Homo sapiens: one gene and its partners. The protein of the gene in region 3 purifies or fractionates together with the protein of the main gene of each other region. This does not show direct contact. Each region holds a gene or a part of one and is shown on either strand. Other genes may lie near its edges.

What was found. Proteins that work in one complex are often made in the same cells at the same time.
Region 1: the proteins of TACC1 (region 3) and RNF41 purify together in Homo sapiens (affinity purification with mass spectrometry; 3 studies listed by BioGRID and IntAct, with this or other methods). This does not show direct contact.
Region 2: the proteins of TACC1 (region 3) and TACC2 purify together in Homo sapiens (affinity purification with mass spectrometry; 3 studies listed by BioGRID and IntAct, with this or other methods). This does not show direct contact.

Annotation. Positions count from the first base shown.
Region 1 is NC_000012.12:56,204,923-56,211,946, forward strand, and holds part of RNF41 (E3 ubiquitin-protein ligase NRDP1), read right to left. Parts: intron 5,647-7,024; coding exon 5,375-5,646; intron 3,377-5,374; coding exon 3,241-3,376; intron 2,828-3,240; coding exon 2,724-2,827; intron 2,389-2,723; coding exon of another isoform or gene 2,385-2,388; exon of another isoform or gene 2,246-2,384; intron 1,877-2,245; coding exon 1,525-1,876; 3' UTR 1-1,524. UniProt on the Homo sapiens protein: Acts as E3 ubiquitin-protein ligase and regulates the degradation of target proteins. Polyubiquitinates MYD88. Negatively regulates MYD88-dependent production of pro-inflammatory cytokines.
Region 2 is NC_000010.11:121,984,665-121,992,162, forward strand, and holds the start of TACC2 (transforming acidic coiled-coil-containing protein 2), read left to right. Parts: upstream 1-4,498; 5' UTR 4,499-4,824; intron 4,825-7,498. UniProt on the Homo sapiens protein: Plays a role in the microtubule-dependent coupling of the nucleus and the centrosome. Involved in the processes that regulate centrosome-mediated interkinetic nuclear migration (INM) of neural progenitors.
Region 3 is NC_000008.11:38,825,233-38,832,256, forward strand, and holds part of TACC1 (transforming acidic coiled-coil-containing protein 1), read left to right. Parts: intron 1-75; coding exon 76-136; intron 137-1,935; coding exon 1,936-2,143; coding exon of another isoform or gene 2,144-2,196; exon of another isoform or gene 2,197-3,338; intron 3,339-5,892; coding exon 5,893-5,945; intron 5,946-7,024. UniProt on the Homo sapiens protein: Involved in transcription regulation induced by nuclear receptors, including in T3 thyroid hormone and all-trans retinoic acid pathways. Might promote the nuclear localization of the receptors.

The sequences.
Region 1 (7,024 bases), on a different chromosome or scaffold from region 3:
TAAAATAATCACACCTATTATCTCTCCCCTTCTCTTACTCTGCCAGTCACTCTAGGGATCAAGGTATACCCCAGGTAACCTGAAATGGAACTGAAGTCCCCAGGGGGGTGTGGGTGAGACACGGCACAGCCTGTACTTAGAGATAAAATTTCTGATTTGCATGGTGAAGCTTAGAACCCAGCTATACAGCTCCAAGGAAACTTGGGGAAGGGGGAGTTGCCTTCAAAATGAATACTCTAAATCCAGAGTTTTATGATAAGGCCCTGGAAGGGCTAGGAGGAAATTTTTCCAGAGGGCACAGGCATCGATGCTGGACTGTCATATCCTTCACAGGAAGAGAGGAAGCTCCTCATTTCAGTTGGGGTTACAGAGGTTTGGGGCAGATATCGTAAGTTCAGCCGAGGACTCCCTTGGCTCTTCCTATATTAAAGCCAAAGGTTGTGCTGAAAAGGAAAAAATATAAAACACACCCCCATCCCTGTCCCACCCTATCCAGAACCCCCACAATAGGAACATCAAAAGAAAAGTTTCAAGTTTGATTTTTTTTTCTTTTTTCCTTTCTTAAAAAAAAAAAAAGGAAGTAAATAAATTAAATTGCCAACAATGTGGCTGAGATAGCCATGATCAGGCCATTCTTAAAAAAAAGAGGGGGGGGGGCAGTAGGTGGAGTTTGTGAAATATAAACAAACAATGGCCAAAGAAAATTATCAAAGTAACTAACTACAGTCACAGGGCTAGAGAGGGGTCTATGGAACAATTATGGCCTGTGCCACAAGAGGCAGTGCCAACCATATTTTAGCAAAAGCTAGGAGTAGCTTCTTGCTAAACACATCAACCCCCAACAGATTAACCCCTACCCTAAACCCTGGCATTCCCTAATTATGAAAACTTGTAGGAAAGAAGAGCTCATCTGGAAATTTTCAGTATCCCAACCTGCATACTGGTAGACCCAGTGGGTGCCTACACCTTTAAGGTGGGCTGAACAGGGATACTGCTTGGCACAGAGGTCCAGTCTTTCCCTAAGGGCCATCAGTGATGGCCAATTAACGGCCTCACTACTTATTTCTAGAGATTTGGCTCCACCCTTACCATTTCTTCAGGATGTCTGCTGCTTAGAGTCAACAGGCCTGACTGCTCTGATTCCCTGGTTTTGGAGGAGAGGGACGATTAGAGATTCCTTCCTCTGTCCTGATCCTCCAGGGAAATTGAATCTCTTTGTGCTTTCTGAAAATAACTGGAACCAGGGACCCTAAGCAGGAAAATGGATGGAGGTGGGGGCTTTCCCACCCAGACTGATAATTTATAGACATTTTAGGGGAATATGGCAAAGGGAGGAAATCTGGGTTTCCCACCTGAAAGGCTGAGCAAACTACCCCAAGGCCCTTCAGTGCCAGAAGGGCAGGGAGATGTGTGGCTCAGGTATAAGCCACAGTATTAAGAATGGTGGGTAGGACTCAGGTCCCAGCTGCTGGAGTGATGGGATTTTCTGATTTCCATCTCTTCCTGATAGCCAGTCGAGTTCTCTTATATCTCTTCCACGCCATGCGCAAATATCATGACAAGGCCTGGCTCTTGCACCATGTCATCCCCCATGTGCTGGTTCTCACAGGCCATCACGACAACAGCCTGCTTGCCAGGGATGCGCTTGGCCACGTAGTTCTCATAGTAGCGTCGGTTCATCTGTCTAGTCTCTAGTGTGGCCAGACCCTGGGGCCAGCTACGCTCGTGGGCATTTTCAATCAGCTCGTTGACAATAGAAGCAGGACAGCCACTCTCCACCAGGGAGCGCTTGATTACAGCCTGGAGCACAGCATCAGGAGTCGAGATCATCCCTCCCCAGCGGGTCACTCTTGCTGGCTGAAGGGAGTTCACCCACCTGTGTGGAGGTGGTTAAAGATGGTCATTCCAGCTCATCTCCTTTCTCTGTATTGGCTTTTTCTGCTAATAGAAATAACTACCCACTCTGCACTCAGCTTACCTATTCTTCCTTCTTTCCTTCCATCATTGGCTCAGAAACCCCAAATCTTTCCCCACTTGGTCCCAACTGAGTCACCACATGTTACTCACCAGATTAAATTCCACAAGTCTGCACTCTGTCTCTGTTACTTTTCTTTGAAATTCCAATACTTAGCACATATAGCGCCTAACACAGTTAGTGCTCTATGTTTAGTGAATAAAACAATTATTCCTCTATCCTATGTCCCACTCAGCACTATTTGCCCTGTATATATTGATTCACACTTACAGTTTACTCTATGAACTGTATAGGACTCCAGAACTGAAAGAGATCTTAGACTTCACTTGTATACTTCGCTTGTTTTTGCTGCATTTTAGAGATCACTTTCCTGGACTTGCACTCTGCCTCCTCTTCTCTGGGTTGTAAGCTACCTGAAGACAGGACGATATCTTCTATTTCTTTTTGGCCCTCCTAGCACTCCACAGCCTTTAATACAGGGCTTTGTACATGGGTACTCACCTAATTCTGGATAAAGTGCATCCTTGGGCAGGCTTTCCCTCCATCCACCCAAACACATAAGACATCCTGTAGTGGAGCTAAGGGTTATCCTCTTCTCCTCTGCCCCTGTCCTTAATGCCAATATCTGAGAAGCAGTGACCCCCAGCCCAGCTCTCCAATGCCCTCCTTCTGCTACTCTCCTGCTCTTCCTCCTTTCAGGCCTTGTTGTCAGGACATGAAATCACTCCACGTCCTGAGTGACACTCACTCTAGGATCTCGTTGTATTCAATTGTCTCCTCCAGGTTCTGAAGGTTGGGGTTGACACTGCGGATTGCACGCATGTATGCCTTTAGCAGCTGGATGTCTCGCTTCTGTTGTGGGGAAGAAGAACAGGAATAATGGTTAAGGCAGACAGCAGAAAAAAGACAAAAGTTTATCCAAGAATGAGGGCAACTGAGAGATCTGAAGAACAACCAGTTTGTAAGCTTCAGGAAGACAGGGATAAGACTGTCTCACTCACAGCTGTCTCCTTAGTACTTACAAATGTGCCTTCACAGAGGAGGCATGTGATAACTGGTAGGTGAATTAATGCTATGAATGGGATGAAGAAAAGTCAAGGAGAGCTCCAATCTGATTCCCTGCTAAGCCACAGGCAGAATATCCACTCATCTAGGCTCACAAGTGTAAGCACTGGTCTGTGTGTTCACAACTGGTTTTTATTACCCACAGGCAGGCAGTTATCTGCATATGAGGGATATGTTCTCCCCCGTGTCTTGGGGCCTACCTGCTCCGCCAGCTGGTGTTTGTGTTCAGCTGACGTCTTCTCCAGCTCTGCGATGCGTGTCTGCTGCTGCTGTACCACTGAGCGCAGGTGCTTAATGCAGTTATGGTTGGGCAGCTCATCTTTGGGCATCTCCAGGCTGCAGACCAGGGTGGGGAAAGAGCAGAACAGAGGTGATCCCTGGGACATGTATGCAAATGGCCTATTCTGTGGCAGATAACTGCTAAGTAGATTTTGTCCTACCCAAAATTTCTAACATTCATTTCAGGCCTCCCTCTTGTTTATTCCCTTCACTTTCTTCGTCCAAGCTTCCTACTTGCCCCTTTGCTGTCTATTTTCCTTAAATTTCTTTCCCCAATCAAGACACAGTGTTTTATCTATTTTTTAAATTTATTTTATTTTGTATTTTTATTATTTTTTTTGACACGGAGTTTCGCTCTTGTTGCCCAAACTGGAGTGCGATGGCATGATCTCAGCTCAGCGCAACCTCTGCCTCCCAGGTTCAAGCGATTCTCCTGCCTCAGCCTCCCGAGTAGCTGGGATTACAGGTGCGCGCCACCATGGCCGGCTAACTTTTTGTATTTTTAGTAGAAATGGGGTTTCTCCATGTTAGCCAGGCTGGTCTCAAACTCCTGGCCTCACGTGATCTGCCCCCCTCGGCCTTCCAAAGTGTTGGGATTACAGGCGTGAGCCACCGCGCCTGGCCTTTTTTTTTTTTTTTCGAGACCAAGTTTCACTCTTGTCACCCAGGCTGGAGTGCAATGGCACGGTCTCAGCTCACTGCAACCTCCGCCTCATGGGTTCAAGTAATTCTTGTGCCTCAGCCTCCCGAGTAGCTGGGATTACAGGTGCCCACCACCACACCTGGCTAATTTTTATATTTTTAGTAGAGATGGGGTTTCACCATGTTGGCCACGCTGGTCTTGAACTCCTGACCTCAGGTGATCCGCCCGCCTCGTCCTCCCAAAGTGCTGGGATTACAGGCGTGAGCCACCGCACGGGGCCTATTTATTTATTTTGACACACTGTTTTTATCTACTGCACAGCTCTCCTTTTCCTCCTACAGATTCTGCCTGTGCACTTATTCCTTCAGAGAAGCCCTATATTCACAGCCCCAGCTATCAACATTCTTTTTATTTTTTAGTTAGGGGGAACAGAGTCTCATTCTGTCACCCAGGCTGGAGTGCAATGGCGCGATCTCAGCTCACTACAACCTCTACCTCTGGTTTTAAGTGATTCTCATGCCTCAGCCTCCTGAGTAGCTGGGATTACAGGCGAGCACCACCACACTTGGCTAATTTTTTTTTTTTTTTTTTGAGACGGAGTCTCGCTCTGTTGCCCAGGCTGGAGTGCAGTGGCTCAATCTCTGCTCACTGCAAGCTCCCCGTCCCAGGTTCATGCCGTTCTCCTGCCTCAGCCTCCCAAGTAGCTGGGACTACAGGTGCCTGCCACCACGCCTGGCTAGTTTTTTGTATTTTTAGTAGAGACGGGGTTTCAATGTGTTAGCCAGGATGGTCTCAATCTCCTGACCTCGTGATCCACCCGCCTTGGCCTCCCAAAGTGCTGGGATTACAGGCGTGAGCCACCGCGCCCGGCCCCACACCTGGCTAATTTTTGTATTTTTAGTAGAGACAAGGTTTTGCCATGTTGGCCAGGTTGGTCTTGAACTCCTGGCCTGAAGTGACTTGCCCACTTCGGCCTCCCAAAGTGCTAGGATTACAGGTGTGAGCTAACATGCCCTTCAGCTATCAACATTTAGTCGAATATTTCATAACCCACAGAAATAAAAAAATAGGGCAAGAGGAAATATGAGAAGGCTGGCAATTATAGCAGTCAACCTGACAAACGGAAAGTAGTATTGGACTGAAAGGGAAGAATAGAGTCAATCAAGCTTTAATGTTATTACACAAATTTACTAAATTGCTGTGCCCCTTCTTTTGTTAAAGCAAGAGCAAAATGATTATAGTTGGAAAAGCAGCAAGAAAGTAAGATCTTAGAGCAGGAAGCCAAGGAGGCTAAGAATACTCCTTGCCAACATGCCAAAGAGACCTCCTCAGCTAGTGAGGAGGGCAGCCAGAGACAGGGGCATAAATGAGATGGCCCTTATCCATGTGGGGCAGAAGGGAACAAATCTCACCCACAGCCCTGTTCACAGGTCACAGGCCGCTTCGGGTTGTGCTCACAGTCGCTGAGGTGAGACATGAGGTTGTCAAGCCGGACAACGGCACTACAGCCGAACACAGCGTTGTCACAGGCAATCTGCAGCTTTGACAACATGTTCCGCATGATCCGAGGTACTGGGCGCAGATGGGCGACCGTCACAACACTACGGTCCACTGGACATGTCTGTTGCTGAGAGAACCACTGGGTGATGCAGGCGTTGCAGAAAGCATGTTCACAATGAGGTGCCTAGAAGAGAGAACAAGGCAAAAGGGGCGCAAGGGAATTAGCAGGACCTAAGAGCCTGGATATGATATAACTCTACAAAGCCAATCAAGCCTTTGAGCAGCCTCTACGACAAGAGGTCCACTGGGTCACAGCAAAGTATAGATCTACTACGGGCAAGGCATTGTAGGGGACAGGCTTAAGATACGTTTCCTGCTGGGCACGGTGGCTCATGCCTGTAATCCCAGCACTTTGGGAGGCTAAGGCAGGCACACTGCTTGACCTCAGGAGTTTGAGACCATCCCAGACAACATGACAAAACCCCATCTCTACAAAAATTACAAAAATTAGCCGGGCATAGGCCGGGCGCAGTGGCTCACGCCTGTAATCTCAGCACTTTGGGAGGCCGAGGCAGGCGGATCATGAGGTCAGGAGTTCAAGACCAGCCTGACCGACATGGTGAAACCCTGTCTCTACTAAAAATAAAAAAATTAGCCAGGGGTGGTGGCGCATGCCTGTAATCACAGCTACTCAGGAGGCTAAGGCAGGAGAATAGCTTGAACCCAGGAGGTGGAGGTTGCAGTGAGCCAAGATCACACCACTGCACTCTAGCCTGGGCAATACATCTCGAAAAAAAAAAGCTGGGCCTGGTGGCACGTGCCTATAGTCCCAGCTAGCCAGGAGGCTGAGGTGGGAGGATGGAGGATGGCTTGAGCCCATAAGGCGGAGGTTGCAGTGAACCAAGACTGCACCACTGCACTCCAGCCTGGGTGACAGAGCCAGAACCTGTTTCAAAATAAATAAATAAATATATATATATATATTCCCTGTGCTCAAGATTAAAAATGAGTTGTGAAACAAGACAAACAAGTAAAAAGTTATATAACAATAAGAGATACAAATGATATTCTAGGACAATAGGACAGATGACACAAGGCAGCCAATTATTAATTGCCATCTGGATTGCATACACAATAATTGCCAAAAATGTCCAGAGGAGGGTGAGGTCTTTTCAGGCTAGCTCAATCACGGCAGGTATTTATGAAGAGGACAGAATTTGATATGGGTCTTGAAGGATAATTCAGATGATAGATTTAGAGAGGAGGAGGACATATTTACTGGCAAAAATTCAATGTAAGAAAGCTAGGCCAGGCATGGTGGATGGCGCCTGTAATCCCAGCACTTTGGGAGGCTGAGGTGGGCGGATAATGAGGTCAGGAGATTGAGACCATCCTGGCTAACATAGCGAAACCCTGTCTCTACTAAAAATACAAAAAATTAGCCGGGCGTGGTGGCGGGTGCCTGTAGTCTCAGCTATTTAGGAGGCTGAGGCAGAAGAATGGCGTGAACCTGGGAGGCAGAGCTTGCAGTGAGCCAAGATCATGCCACTGCACTCCAGCCT
Region 2 (7,498 bases), on a different chromosome or scaffold from region 3:
TGGTACCAATTATCACAGGTTGGATTCTCTGGGAAGCAGACTACGAAACAGATTGGCATGCAGGAGGTTTGTTAGGGGATGTATTGCAGAAAGGAAGGAAACAGGATTGGGCAGAGGAAGCAGCTGAGTTTCACACTATGCAGCTCTCTTCCGCTGAGGCAGTCTGCAAAGGGGCACACAGCTGAGAGCTGTCTGCTGGCAGCATTTCCAGTCACTGGGAAAATAATTTCTTTTTTCCCTGGACAGTGCATCACAGGTCCCCCCACAACATCATCAAGGCTGTTCTGTAACCACAAGTAAATCATCTCTTCTTCATCTATAAGTTGATTCACAAATTTGGAAATCAATGTGGAATATTTTTCTTTTTGGATCTCTGTGAATATTGTTTGATACAGAGCTTGTGATCAATAAGATTACCAATTACATTTTCTCTTTTATACTTTTGCTTTCCTCTACAGTTTCTAATTGCTTTTTTGGTACTATTTGAAGAAATATATTGTCAACTTTTTCCAACCTCTTCATCAAATTCACTTTTCTATGGAAATCCTCCTTTTTTTTCTTTTCTTTTCTTTTCTTTTTTCTTTCTTTTTTTTTTTTTTTTTTTTTTTTGAGACAGAGTCTTGCTCTGTCTCCCAGGCTGGAGTGCAGTGGCGTGATCTTGGCTACCGCAACCTCCACCTCCCGAGTTCAAGCAATTCTTCTGCCTCAGCCTCCCGAGTAGCTGGGACTACAGGCACCCACTGCCACACCCAGCTAATTTCTGTATTTTTAGTAGAGATAGGGTTTCACCATGTTGACCAGGCTGGTCTTGAACTCCTGACCTCAGGCGATCTGCCTGTCTTGGCCTCTGAAAGTGCTAGGATTACAGACGTGAGCCACTATGCCTGGCTCTCCTTTTTTTTTCCCCTAGAGATCTCCATCCCAGGGCCCTGTGTCTGCCCACTTCAATTTGGATGAGCTGTTATTCCAGTCTTGCTACACAGTTGTCACCATGGGGTTTCCCTTTACTGCCATCCTTGGTTAAACTCATTGCTTTCTGGATTCCATGTTTAAAACTTTTGTTTCGTTTATGCCCTGGTTTTGCTGAGGTATTTTCTTAGAAGAGATGTAAAGCAAGCTAGTTTTATGAGTCTAAAAAATGTCTTTATTTTTCTTTTCCATTTAGTTGAAGATTTGACTGGATATAGAATTTTGAGCTGAAACTAATTTTTCATCAGGAATTTAAAAGCATTGTTCCATTGTCTGCCTGAAATGGATTCTTTCTTTTTTTTTTTTTTGAGATGGAGTCTCACTTTTGTCACCCAGGCTCTAGTGCAATAGTGTGATCTCGGCTCACTGCAACTTCCGCCTCCCAGGTTCAAGCAATTCTCCTGCCTCAGCTTCCCGAGTAGCTGGGATTACAGGTACGGGTCGCCATGCCTGGCTAAGTTTTGTATTTTTAGTAGAGATGGGGTTTCATCATGTTGGCCAGGCTGGTCTCAAACTCCTGACCTCAGGTGATCTGCCCGCCGCGGCCTCCCAAAGTGCTGGGATTCCAGGCATGAACCATCATGCCCAGCCAAGATTCTGATCCAGCATTCACTCAACAAACATTCCAAGTATGTTCTAGGCACTAATGATACAGGTGCTCCCTGTAAATTCTTCATAAGTTAAAAGTATTGTAAGTTGAAAATGCATTTAACACACCTAACCTACTGAACATAGGGATATGGGAGTTAAGAAGAAATTACTTGGGCAGATAGTGAGGGTACGGAAGTCCTTGGTAAGGCTTTTATCCTTAATGAAAAGCAGCCCCAAATTGTTTTTTAACAAAGAGCAGCCTATAAAGTTGAGCTGCAGATATAAACAAGCAAGCTGGGAGCTTGCACAGGTGAATGCCGGCAGGAGCTAGGGACTATATGTGTTCAAGATGGTGGCTCTGTCTTCCTTTCTCTTTGTCGACCACCATACAATGTATTAAAGAGCAGTCAAGATAGTGCTGATCAACTGGAGAGTCCATTTACATAATAAGATTAGGGTGGGGCAGCCAGTCTTCCTCGCGGGCTATGTAAATGTCATACCTGATGGTACCAATCTATGAGGTCTGCGTAAATCAGACACCACCTTTTCCAGCCTGCCTATAAAATCTGCTGCGGTCCGCCGCCTCCCGTTTTGGACTTCTCTCTCTCTCCTTTCTTCTATTAAGTTTTCTACTTCTTAACCCACCCACGTGTGTCTGTGTCCTGAATTCTTTCTCATTGTGAGACAAGGAACCCCAGCATAAATACTCTAGACAATGTAGCTGTTAAAGTAGCATAGCCTAGCCTACCTAAAACGTGCTGAGAACACTTGCATTAGCCTACAGTTGGGCAAAATCACCTAACACAAAGCCTAGTTTGTGACAAAGTGTTGAATCTCATAGAATTTATTGAATACTGTACTGAATTTGAAAAACAGAATAGTTGTTTGAATACTCAAAGTACAGTTTCTGCTGAATGCATTCTCTCTTTTGAGCCATCTTATGATAAATCTACATCAAATTATTGTTATGTTAGGGAAGGAAACTGCCTTTGCAGAACTGACAGTAACAGAAATGTGACATGGTTGACTTCATCTTGCTTCTGACCTCCAAGCTGTCCTTGGTTATTCCTGGGCATAGGCCAAGCTAACTTTGGGAGGAATTCAATTTATAGTTTAATTTGAAAGTAAAGATTATAATAGTCCCTCCCTAAAACTAACCCCCTCCTTTCTCAGGGACCAAAATCGCCTTTGTAAGACTAATGAAAGGCCACAGGAATAGGATAATGGGAGAAGGCAGAACTCTGCTAAAATGTAGGCATAGTTTCTATAGTCCCTTAATGCCCAGGGGTCATGTGGCCAGAGTTCACAAGATCTGTGACTTTCCCAATTGCTCCTGTAAGTAACATCACTATTGTAGAACTTAAGATTGGGGTGTTTGTTTGTTTGTTTGTTTTTGTATTTTTAGTAGAGACGGGGTTTCACCATCTTGGCCAGGCTGGTCTCGAACTCCTGATCTTGTGATCCACCCACCTGGGCCTCCCAAAGTGCTGGGATTACAGGCGTGAGCCACCGCGCCCAGCCAAGATTGAGTTTTTTAAGATGTTTTTCAGACTGACCTCACTCAGACTCATGACTCATGACTCAACAGGTCCTGGGGCCCCACCCAGAGGCAGACTCAGTGCATGAGGACTGCTTTCCACACCGGTATGATTTCATCCCCAACCAATCAGCGGCACTATCCCCCTACCCCCTGACAACCAAATTGTCCATAAAAACCCTTGTTCCGAGCCTACAGGGAGACTGATCTGAGGGATAACTCCAGTTCTCCCACGTGGGCTCAGCCTCGCGGCAGTTAAACTCTTTCTCTATTGCAATGCCATGGTCTCAGTGAATTGATTTTTGTCTGTGCAGTGGGGAAGAAGAACTTGTTGGGTGGCTCCAGAACCATCTGTATAATGATGAATAAGACAAAGTCCCTACTCTCATGGAGGAGACAGATAATAAAGAAAAGAAAAAAAAAGGATTTGGTCATTGTAAGTGCTATGAAGAATTTAAATAGGCTAAAGGGATAGGTGGAGAATAGAAGTTGCATTTTTTCTTTCCCTCCAGATAGAGTCTCACTCTGTCACCCAGGCTGGAGTGCAGTGGTGCGATCTTGGCTCACTGCAACCTCCACCTCTGGGTTCAGGCAGTTCTCCTGCCTTAGCCTCCTAAATAGCTGGGATAGCAGGCACCTGCCACCACGCCCGGCTAATTTTTGTCTTTTTAGTAGAGAGGGGGTTTTACCATGTTCGCCAGGCTGGTCTTGAACTCCTAACCTCAAGTAATCCACCCACCTCGGCCTCCCAAAGTGCTGGGATCACAGGCATGAGTCACTGTGCCCGACCTGAAAGTTGCTATTTTAGGTGTGATGAGCAGCACAACATCTTTCCTGAGGAGGTGACATTTGAGATGTGACTTGAATTGTGAGGAGTAATGTGTCATGCAAAAATACAGGGAAGTCATATTGTAGTCAAAGGCAATAGCAAAAAAAAGTCTTTGGGGTTAAAATAAGTCTGACACATTCAAGAAAGTTCAGAAAGGCATACATACCTGTGTTAGAGTAGGTAGCTAGGGGAACATGAGAAGGGCAGCAGAGGGCATTCCACCCCCACCCCCAACCAGGAATGTCAGGCGACCATCATGTGATGGTCAGGTGGTTGTTACACTGTTTCTCTAAAATCATCATTGGTTGCAGCCAGCACCAGGGAAAGGCCGGCTCCCAATAGATAGAAAACACCTGAAGCTAGTGTCAGCCGCTTCCTGATAAGATCTCAGGAGTTGGGCAAGTGGGCTCAAGCATGGGCCCTAAGGGGCAAAATGTCAGAGTTTAACTAATATATGACCTTCCTCTAGGAATTCTCGACTGGCAAGGGAAAAATGCCTCAAATGAGCACGCGCACAACTTCAGTAAACACACTGTGAGTGCGGCCACTCCCAAGTGCTGGCAGACCACTGCATAAGTGGACAGCCTGCTCCAAGGGAAGGATCAGGAGAGAAGAAACGCAAATCCCAGAACCGTGCCAACATATAAAACCCCACATTAAGGGTTGTACAGTGCACTGGGATTTCTCAAGTCACCCGCTTGGTCCTCTTCCAAGTATACTTTACTTCCTTTCATTCCTCTCTAAAACTTTTTTAAAAACTTTCACTCCTGCTCTAAAAGTTATCTTGGTTTCTTACTCTACCTTATGCCCCTTGGGCGAATTTTTTCCTCTGAGGAGGGAAGAATAGAGTTGCTGCTGCAGACACATCAGATTCCCTACTGGTAACAGCTGGAGTGCGGTAAGTAAGGAGGAGAGGGCTGGAAAATGAAGTTGGCTCTGATTCCCATTACTTGAAAATACAGGGTAGGAAAACCCTATCTTCTTAGGTTCAGTGGCTGGGGAGCACCATCACTCAAGGTGAGAACTGCCTGGCTGAGCCCAGCCAACTCACAGAACTGTATGAGGTATTTTCATCTACTGTGCTAGGCACCTAGTGAGAGCCCTTTTGCGTCTTTCAACTTTGGAAAAAATTATGATTTATTTTTATTTTTTAAATTAATTTTATTTTTTTTTTTTATGTTTTTAGAGATAGGTTCTTACTCTGTCATCCAAGCCAGAGTGCGGTGGCATGATCATGGCTCACTGTAGCCCAGAACTACTGGGCTCAAGTGATTCTCCTGCCTCAGCTTCCCAAGCAGCTGGTACCACAAGCACATGCCAGCATGTGCAGCATGGGAAATATTTTTATGTTACCACCTCGACACTTTCTTCCTTCTACTTTTCTGTGTCATGTCTGCATCTCCCGTCACTTAGATAGGGACCTCACAGTTTGATTCTCCAGACCTTTAATATTTTTTCATATTTTAAATATTTCTTTAATTCTGTTTTTTGAGATATTTTATTAAATTTACCTTCAACCTTCTGTGGATTTTTTTTTTTAGACAGGGTCTTGCTCTACTGCCCAGGCTGGAGTGCAGTGGCATAATGATGGTTCATTGCAGCCTCGACCTCCCGGGCTAACGCAATCCTCCCACCAGGAGCAATCCTCTCAAGTAGTTGGAACTACAGGTGCATGCCACTAAATTCAGCTAATATTTTTTATTTTTTATAGAGATGGGGGTCTCGCCGTGTTGGCCAGGCTGGTCTCAAACCCCTAGGCTCAAGTGATCCTCCTGCCTCAGCCTCCCAAAGTGCTGGGATTATAGGTATGAGCCACCAAACACTGCCAGAATTTTAAATATCAGGATATAGGAAAGGTTTTGCTTTCGTTTTCAATTTTGTTTTTGTCTTATGGCACGGGGCCAGGCAGGGCAAAGGGTAGATTCCATTGACACTTATTTTTAATTTTCTGCCCAAGTACGTTCCCACCATTGTTCCTGGTGTTTCAGACCCTCTCCAGGGTCTGCAGAGTCTTGTTTGGCTGGAGCCCCTTCTACTCTAGTCTAATGCCCCTCTGCCCTAATTCCTCAACTACCAGGCCGTCACTGCTTTCCATTACCCACAACCATGGAGAAAGCTCTCATCAGCTAATGTGCCTTCTCCAGTTTGCCACATTATTACATTATTGTCTGGACATACCTGTTTTTTTGTTGTTGTTGTTTGTTTGTTTGTTTTTGAGACAGGGACTCGCTGTGTTACCCAGGCTGGAGTGTAGTGTTGCCTTCTCGGCTCACTGCAACCTCTGCCTCCCAGGTTCACTCGATTCTCCTGCCTCAGCCCCCTGAGTAGCTGGGATTACAGGCACCTGCCACCACGCCCAGCTAATTTTTGTATTTTTAGTAGAGATGATTTTGCCATATTGGCCAGGCTGGTTTCAAACTCCTGACCTCAAGTGATCCACCTGTCTCAGCCTCCCAAAGTACTGGAATTACAGGTATGAGCCACTACGCCTCATCTGGACCTACTTGTTTTTAAAAATGCCTTTGTTATCATTTTAATGAAGTCTCTTAAAGGAAAGGAGTTGCATTTGTGTGTTCTGTCTTCTTCAGTAAAGAGAGGGCTTTTATTTATTTATTTTATGTATGGAGATAAATGAACCTTAAACATTGTATATTTTTATTTTTATAAATCCACCTGTTTACTGTCATTTCAAACATTACTTTAAATTTATTTTCCCCTCAGAGCTTTTAAATAATCAGGAGCTCTAAGCATTGCCTGGGAAATGTTTTGTTTTCTTTGCGCTGTCCGCCACATGCTAGTGATTTTCAGCAAGGTTGTGTTTACGTGTATTTCAACTGGGCAAATAGGAACTAATATGAAATAAAATAACATTAATCAAACCTGACTTTATGAGCAAGTTTTGAAATAGTTCACATCTCAAATTAAAAATAAGTCTTTTTTGCTAATTAATGAATGAATGTTTTGGTCAAGAATCATTTCAAAGCTGAGCAGCTGAGTGAATGATAGAAACTGCACTCACACTGTTGCTGTATGGTGGCACCATCTCAGCCGGTATACAGAGATGTCTGCAGGTTTTCATCAGGATCATGGGAACTGCACTGTTGTTTACAGACATTGGAACTCTGACTTGTGACTTTAGTGTAATTTAAAACTTTTTTATATCTCAAAGCCATTTGCATTAGTCCATTTTCATGCTGCCGATAAAGACATGCCCAAGATGGGCAATTTACACAGGAAGAAGGTTTAATGGACTCACAGTTCCGTGTGGCTGGGGAGGCCTCATAATCATGGCAGGAGGCAAGGAGGAGCAAGTCACATCTTACATGGATGACAGCAGGCAAAGAAAGAGCTTGTGCAGGGAAACTCCCCTTATAAAATCATCAGATTTCGTGAGACTTATTCACTATCATGAGAACAACATGGGAAAGACCTGCCCCCATGATTCAATTACCTCCCACCAGGTCCTTCCTGCAACAAGTGGGAATTTAAGATGAGATCCGGGTGGGGACACAGCCAAACTGCATCACCATTTCACCCACGTTTTATGTGTTGGTGCTAGTGGGAGTACTAAA
Region 3 (7,024 bases):
GTCTGCTCCATTTCATACCTTGACAATTGTCAGTGTGATTGCAAACTGGCTTGTTTGTGTTTCTTCTCTTTCCAGGAGTGGCTGTAAGGTGAAGAAGCATGAAACTCAGTCTCTCGCCCTGGATGCATGTTCTCGGGTGAGTCTGTGCCCATCTCCAGAATGTCTCTGAGACCAGGGGTCCTCCAGTGGGAGTTTGCATCCCCCTGGCGGGTGGTTCAAAAGGACTTTCCAATGGGTACCTGAGTACTCAGCTTTAAGAAGCCAATTTCCAGATCCTTACTGTCCCTGAAGAGAAGGCCCCTGAAGACAAGGGAACCCTTTCACAATGACTCTTTTTTTTTTTTGGTAAAATTCCCACTTTAAATGCTACAAAGATGCATCACCACAGGGTGTGAAAGTCTCCAGGGCACCGAAGGGAAGATCTGAAATACTGGTGTAGGTTCTAATAAGATAATTGACTCTAATAACTGGATGGTATTTTTCTTAAGTCAGATGGTTTTCTAATTCATTGCTTTCAACAATAGAGGAAAACCTGAGTTGTCAGCTGATAGGTCTAAAAATAATGTTTGATGGTAGATTTTTTTGGGCACATAACTTGGAAAGGGGTTCAAAGAATTGAAAGGCACTTATGTTACAGAACTACTTTCTGTTTCATCTATTGTTTATATAAATAAGGTTTCTTAATGATTATATTGATAAAAATAGAAACCAGGAATAAAATTGATGTTGACCTTTGTTACATTCTAGCAATAAATAATATCCATCCATGACCGTATAAACTAATTGCAAAACAAAGCGAAGCCCAGGCCCATCTGATTGCAATGAGATCCTTTTGTTCTTTTTAAAACTTTCTCAGTATACTTATTACAGAAATACATTCATTGGTTAATAGAGTTCAATTTAACATAACTTTTCCTCTACAATTTGGATCAGAAACTTGGTATATGGTGTAAGATGTAAAAAAGGGGTGTGATGGGGGAAATTTACAATCTGAGTTATTTTTCATCTGTTAACAAATGTGTAACATTCTCCCTCAGATTTTGCTAAAGTAGGCAGCAAGAACTATGAGAAATTTATCTTTGGTTTTCTTTAAAAAACAAAAACAAAAACCCAAAACCCATATATTTAGTGCACTGTAAAAGTTTTTAAGAATTAGTGCAATAAAACATTTTGTAATTGATATAACAACTTACTTTTGTGTCTGATAATACTTATCAAAACTTGCAATATTTTGAAAATAAGTTGTGCATTAATAAATGTGATAAGTCTCCAGCAGAAAAAATTTTAAGACTTAAAGAAAAAAGTTTCACAGAGACATTGGATAGAGACTTTTAAAAAGACTTTCAACCATGCAGATGTTTTTCATTTGGATAGTTTCTTGATGGAAGTGGGATGGAAATACAGATTTAGAGAGGAAAAGGAATAACATAAATTTCTGACTTATTCAGGAACTTGTTCATTTAAATTTACATATGGTATCAAATCACTAAGGTAACTAGATAGCATTAAGTAAATTCAATATTTAGAATATTCCAGATATTACATTCTTTGCAATTATTTAAACTTATGCCAAAAAGTTTTTAGATGTCACTTGAAAATGCAATGGGGGACATAGATTTTCAAAAAAAAATTAGGTATATGAGCAAAAAAATTGAAAACCATTGTCTTAAACCACTGAAACTGCTTGCTTATAAACTTAACCTAGAGAAGATCATTTTTTAAAACCTCAGACTCAAGTTACAGAAACTAGGTTCTATAAAACAGCATCTCACAATTGAAAGACTCCAACTTCCTCCTTGCTTTGTACCCAGGTCTGTGGTTAACCTCTCACATATCTGTATGGAGTTGTGTCTACTTTGTTCCATTCATGGGATGTCACTTTTCCCCATTGCTTGCCCTCCTAAAGGGTAGCATCTTCTCTGTTGTGTTTCTCAGGATGAAGGGGCAGTGATCTCCCAGATTTCAGACATTTCTAATAGGGATGGCCATGCTACTGATGAGGAGAAACTGGCATCCACGTCATGTGGTCAGAAATCAGCTGGTGCCGAGGTGAAAGGTGAGCCAGAGGAAGACCTGGAGTACTTTGAATGTTCCAATGTTCCTGTGTCTACCATAAATCATGCGTTTTCATCCTCAGAAGCAGGTATGGAAGCATATCTTCATCTTTCTAATGTACATAAGCATGGAAATGCCTGAAAGCCTAATAAAGCAGGAGGAGCCTTACAGAGATTAAAGAATTGGGTCACTTGAAGGATAGATTTAGGATGCTGACCTATGCTTTGCTTCTTTACCTGGAAAAGGGACACAAAGTGCTTATTGAAGTACTAGGAACGTAGAGATACTTGTGACAAGTTGTATAGGAGATGCTGATGTATGTGAGACTGCTTGAATTTCTTTATAATTTTATGTGAATATGGCCATATCTTAAAGTATAGTGGTGTGTTAGTTCATTTGCGTTGCTGTAAAGGAATACCTGAGAATGGCTAATTTATAGGAAAAAGAGGTTTATTTGGTTCATGGTTCTGCAGACTGTAGAATAAGCATGGCACCAGTGCCTGCTTCTGGTGAGGGACTCAGGAAGCTTCCAATCATGGTGGAAGGCAAGGGGGAGCAAGTGTGTCACATGGCGAGAGGTGGGAGGAAGAGGGGGCGGGGAGGATGCCAGGCTATTTTTAACAAAGATTTCACAGAAACTAACAGCAAGAAGTCGCTCATTACCACAAGGAGGGCACCAAGCTATTCATGAGGGATCCGCTCCTATGACCCAGCCACCTCCCATTAGGCCTCACTTCCAACTGTTGATCAGGTTTCAACATGAGATTTAGGGGGCAAATATTTAAACTATATCAAATGGCCTATAAATATGTCATATGTTTGACTTTTTTGTGATTGTTATACTCATTGTTTAACTTAGAGAAATAACAACTGACATGTATGGTGCCTTACCATGTACAGGCATTGTTTTAAGTGCTTTGCATATACTCATTCATAGCAAGGTGTTACCCTTTTCTCACTTCTTCAGAGAAACAAAGTAAGTCAAAGAAGTTAAGTGACTTGATTAAAGTCACTTGGCTAGGGTAGGACAGAAAAGTGGTATCTTTTTCCTCACCACAAGGTTCATGGCTGAGACATCTCTAACAAAAGATCAACAAGAGAAAAGTGTACAAATATATTTAATATAAGTTTTACATGACATTAGAGCCTCCAGAAATGAAGACCCAAAGGAACAGGGAAAACTGTACTTTTATAGATAGTTGTGCAGAAGTATAATTGGAGGACAGAAGGGTGTGATCTGTGGTAATAAACCAGGGGAACTTAGCAAGTCCTGTTTGTTCCAATTCCTCTTGGTGTCTGTGTCTTTCAGGATAAGGACATTGTTTTTCTCTGTGTACAGGGAGGACCCCTCTTGTAATGAGGTCTTATGAACTATTTTCAGGGGAAGGTCTGAGGGGTTGCTTTATGGCCTGCTTCAGGAAAGGGGGCAGGAGAGGGGCCGAGAGACCTCCCTGCTTCTGCTGTGTCCTCAAATGCGAAGGCACCATATTTTGGTGAAGTGTGTTCTGAACCTCATCATTAGTAAATGGTAGAACTACATTTGACTCTAAGCAGTCTGGTTCCATGGTCTTTTCGCCACAATGCCAAAGTATGAAGAGATTATTTTCATGATACTAGGCTACTGTAAATTTTCCTGGTACAGATGTGGTAAGTTGAGATTGACCAGTGCACTGTAAAATCTTTCTTAACATGCCAATGAGGAACCTGGGCTAACCAGGGTGGAAGCCTCTTATTGATGGACTCATCAGATCATTCTAGAGCTAAGCCCCTCTTTCTTGGGACCCCAGTTACATCCTTGGCCTTAAACTTTACTTATGAAAAGTTTAGAACCATGTTCCTGACTACATTAAACATTATTAAAAACTCAGATCTTCTTAACATAATTTTATTCATGGGCTTTTATGTATAGAATTTTAAAAGTCATGATCTGCCATTAAGCCAGGGAAGCAGATGGAAAGTCAGGACTTGGAGCAATTTATTCCCCCTGGCCTCCTTCTCATCCCAGGCCTCAGTCTCTCATCTATAAAATAATATGCCAGGCATTGTTCCTGATTTCTTCCAATACTGTCTTCTGCCCTGACATCTTTCCCAAAGATATTGTTCACCATTCCCCCAGTTTCTTGGGGTTAATCCTGAGTATTCTTAACACCTGCCTTGGTTTTTTTCCATCTGAAGTGTCTTCCTTTGCTGCCTCTTACACAGATCTGCACATCCCTTCAGGTCTCTCCAGCATGCTTTTGCTCCCACATTTCCTTTCCCCCTTCCTGTTCCACAGTACCTAGCGCAGTGTGTTAATTACAGGAAGGTAATATTATAAACTTACTGAGGTTAGAGACTACCACTCATCTTTGAGTCACCTTTGACACAGTACATGGTAAACATTTATTGAATTATATTCTTCCTCACTAGAGGAAATTCCTTCAATAAAAATTTATGTAGAGAGCTGGGGCCCTGTACATACAGTGCTGTCTTCAAAGTTAGCAAACAGCAAGGGGAACATATTTAAACAAGTGGTTACATTGTAACTGATCAGCCGCATCACAAGCAAGTGGAGGCTGCGGTCCTGGGTGTGGGAATGGCTACAGGCCCTGTTAGGTGAATCCTGACTGTGTCCTGGTGAGTGTCCCCTTGAAGCTGGGTCCTGATGGATACTTACTAGATGTTCTCCAGGAAATGAGATTTTCACACAGCCATGGGAAGAAAGCTGCCACGTTGGTAAAAGGCCTGGTTGCTTTCTGTAAGTATCTGGCCAAGTGGGAAACAAGGTCATACCGTGGAATCTGGGCTTGATCCTATAGGTAGGGAGGGGGAGGTTGAAGGTTTTTGAATAAGGGAGTGATGGTCACATTTGTGTTTTAAATAATTAGCTATTGACAACAATAGTAGTTAGTGATTGCCATGTGGAGGATTGTAACTTTAAACTTTTGTATGCTTTTCTGTATTTTTATGTTTACTTTAATGAGTGCATCTTCTGGTTATTTTATTTTTTATTTTTCTTATTTTTGAGACTGAGTTTCGCTCTTGTTGCCCAGGCTGGAGTGTGGTGGCGCTATCTCAACTCACTGCAACCTCCAGCTCCCGGGTTCAAGCGATTCTCCTGCTTCAGCCTCCCAAGTAGCTGAGATTATAGGCATGCGCCACCACGCCCAGCTAATTTTTGTATTTTTAGTAGATGAGGCTTCGCCATGTTGGCTAGGCTGGTCTCCTGACCTCAGATGATCCACCCACCTTGGCCTCCCAAAGTGCTGGGATTACAGGCATGAGCCACTGTGCCCAGCCATCTTCTGGTTATTTTAAATGTCATCCTCTACCCTAGTAGAGTAGAGGATAGACCTGAGACAAGGAAGCCCATTTGAAGGGGTGGAGGGGAGAATGAGTTTAGTTTCGCTGCCTTGAATTTTAAAGCTTATTATCTTATCTGCTGCATTAATTAGATCAAGGCCACCCTTCTGGGCTGGAATTTAAATTCACTCCGACTTGATGATTAAAAAAAAGCATTCAGTGTTACACAGTGTCCCCTTTCTGAAATAATGCCACAGTTAGTACGACACATTTTTCCAAACTTTTAATGGACACAAGGGGGCAGCCTTGCTGTTCTTTCAGCCTGAAGGCTGACGACCTGTTTGTGGCTGACTAACCATGTGCTCCTCTTCTGAATGTCATGGACTTATAACAGCACTCAACAAAATGCCAGCGCTCCTTTTAAATAAAATCTTAAAATGCTTTTCATGTGTTCATAAGTCATTCTCGCCTGCACTGGGGTTTCCAAGAGCCTTTCACTAGGGAGGAAAGGAACCGACTTCTTGGGATAACTATAAAAATGACTTTCTGTCTTAGGCATAGAGAAGGAGACGTGCCAGAAGATGGAAGAAGACGGGTCCACTGTGCTTGTAAGTTCCTGAATGTGGAGGGCCGGGTGGACTCAGGTTTCTTTCAGTATTTGTTTTGAAGCCCATGTGAATTTGTTAAATTCTGGTCAGTGTTAGGTGATGAGGATAAAATGTAAATGAGATAGTTTCTTCACTTGAGGAACACATAGTCTCTGCATTGTAACCCTAGCCGCAGGTAGCTGTGGAGCACTTGAACTGTAGCTACTCAGAAAAAGAAGAAGCATAAATGTCTCAACTTTTTATATTAACTACATGTTGAGATGATAATATTTTGGATGTCTTGGGTTAACTAAGGTTTATTATTATCATTATTATTGTTGTTATTATTATTATTATTTGAGACAGTCTCACTCTGTTCCCCAGGCTGGAGTACAGTGGTGCAATCTTGGCTAACTGCAACCTTCACCTCCTGGGCTCAAGTGATCCTTCTACCACAGCCTCCCAAGTAGCTGGAACTAGAGGCACGTGCCACCGCACCCAGCTAGTTTTTGTATTTTTTGCAGAAATGGGGTCTTGCCATGTTACCTAGGCTGGTCTCAAACTCCTGGGCTCAAGCAATCTGCCCACCTCCGCCTCCCAAAGTGCTGGGATTACAGGCATGAGCCCCTGCACCTGGCTGGTTTACTCAGTTCTTTTTTTTTTTTTTGAGACAGAGTTTCACTCTTGTCACCCAGGTTGGAGTACAGTGACGCAATCTCGGCTCACTACAACCTCCACCTACTGGGTTCAAGCAGTTCTCCTCCCTCAGCCTCCTCAGTAGCTGGGATTACAGGCATGCGCCACCACGCCCAGCTAATTTTTGTATTATTAGTAGAGATGGGGTTTCACCATGTTGGCCAAGCTGGTCTCAAACTCCTGACCTCAGGTGATCCACCTGCCTTGGCCTCCTGAAGTGCTGGGATTACAGGCATGAGCCACTGCGCCCAGCCCATTTACTCAGTTCTTAAACTTTAAACTTCCTAATTCCCAACTGATTCATCCATAAAATGAGTAGCACCCATCTGCCTTATCAAAGTGGTTGTAAGGATAAGATGAAATGACAACGTGAAAGATTTAAGCTGTAAAGTGCTAGAATACAC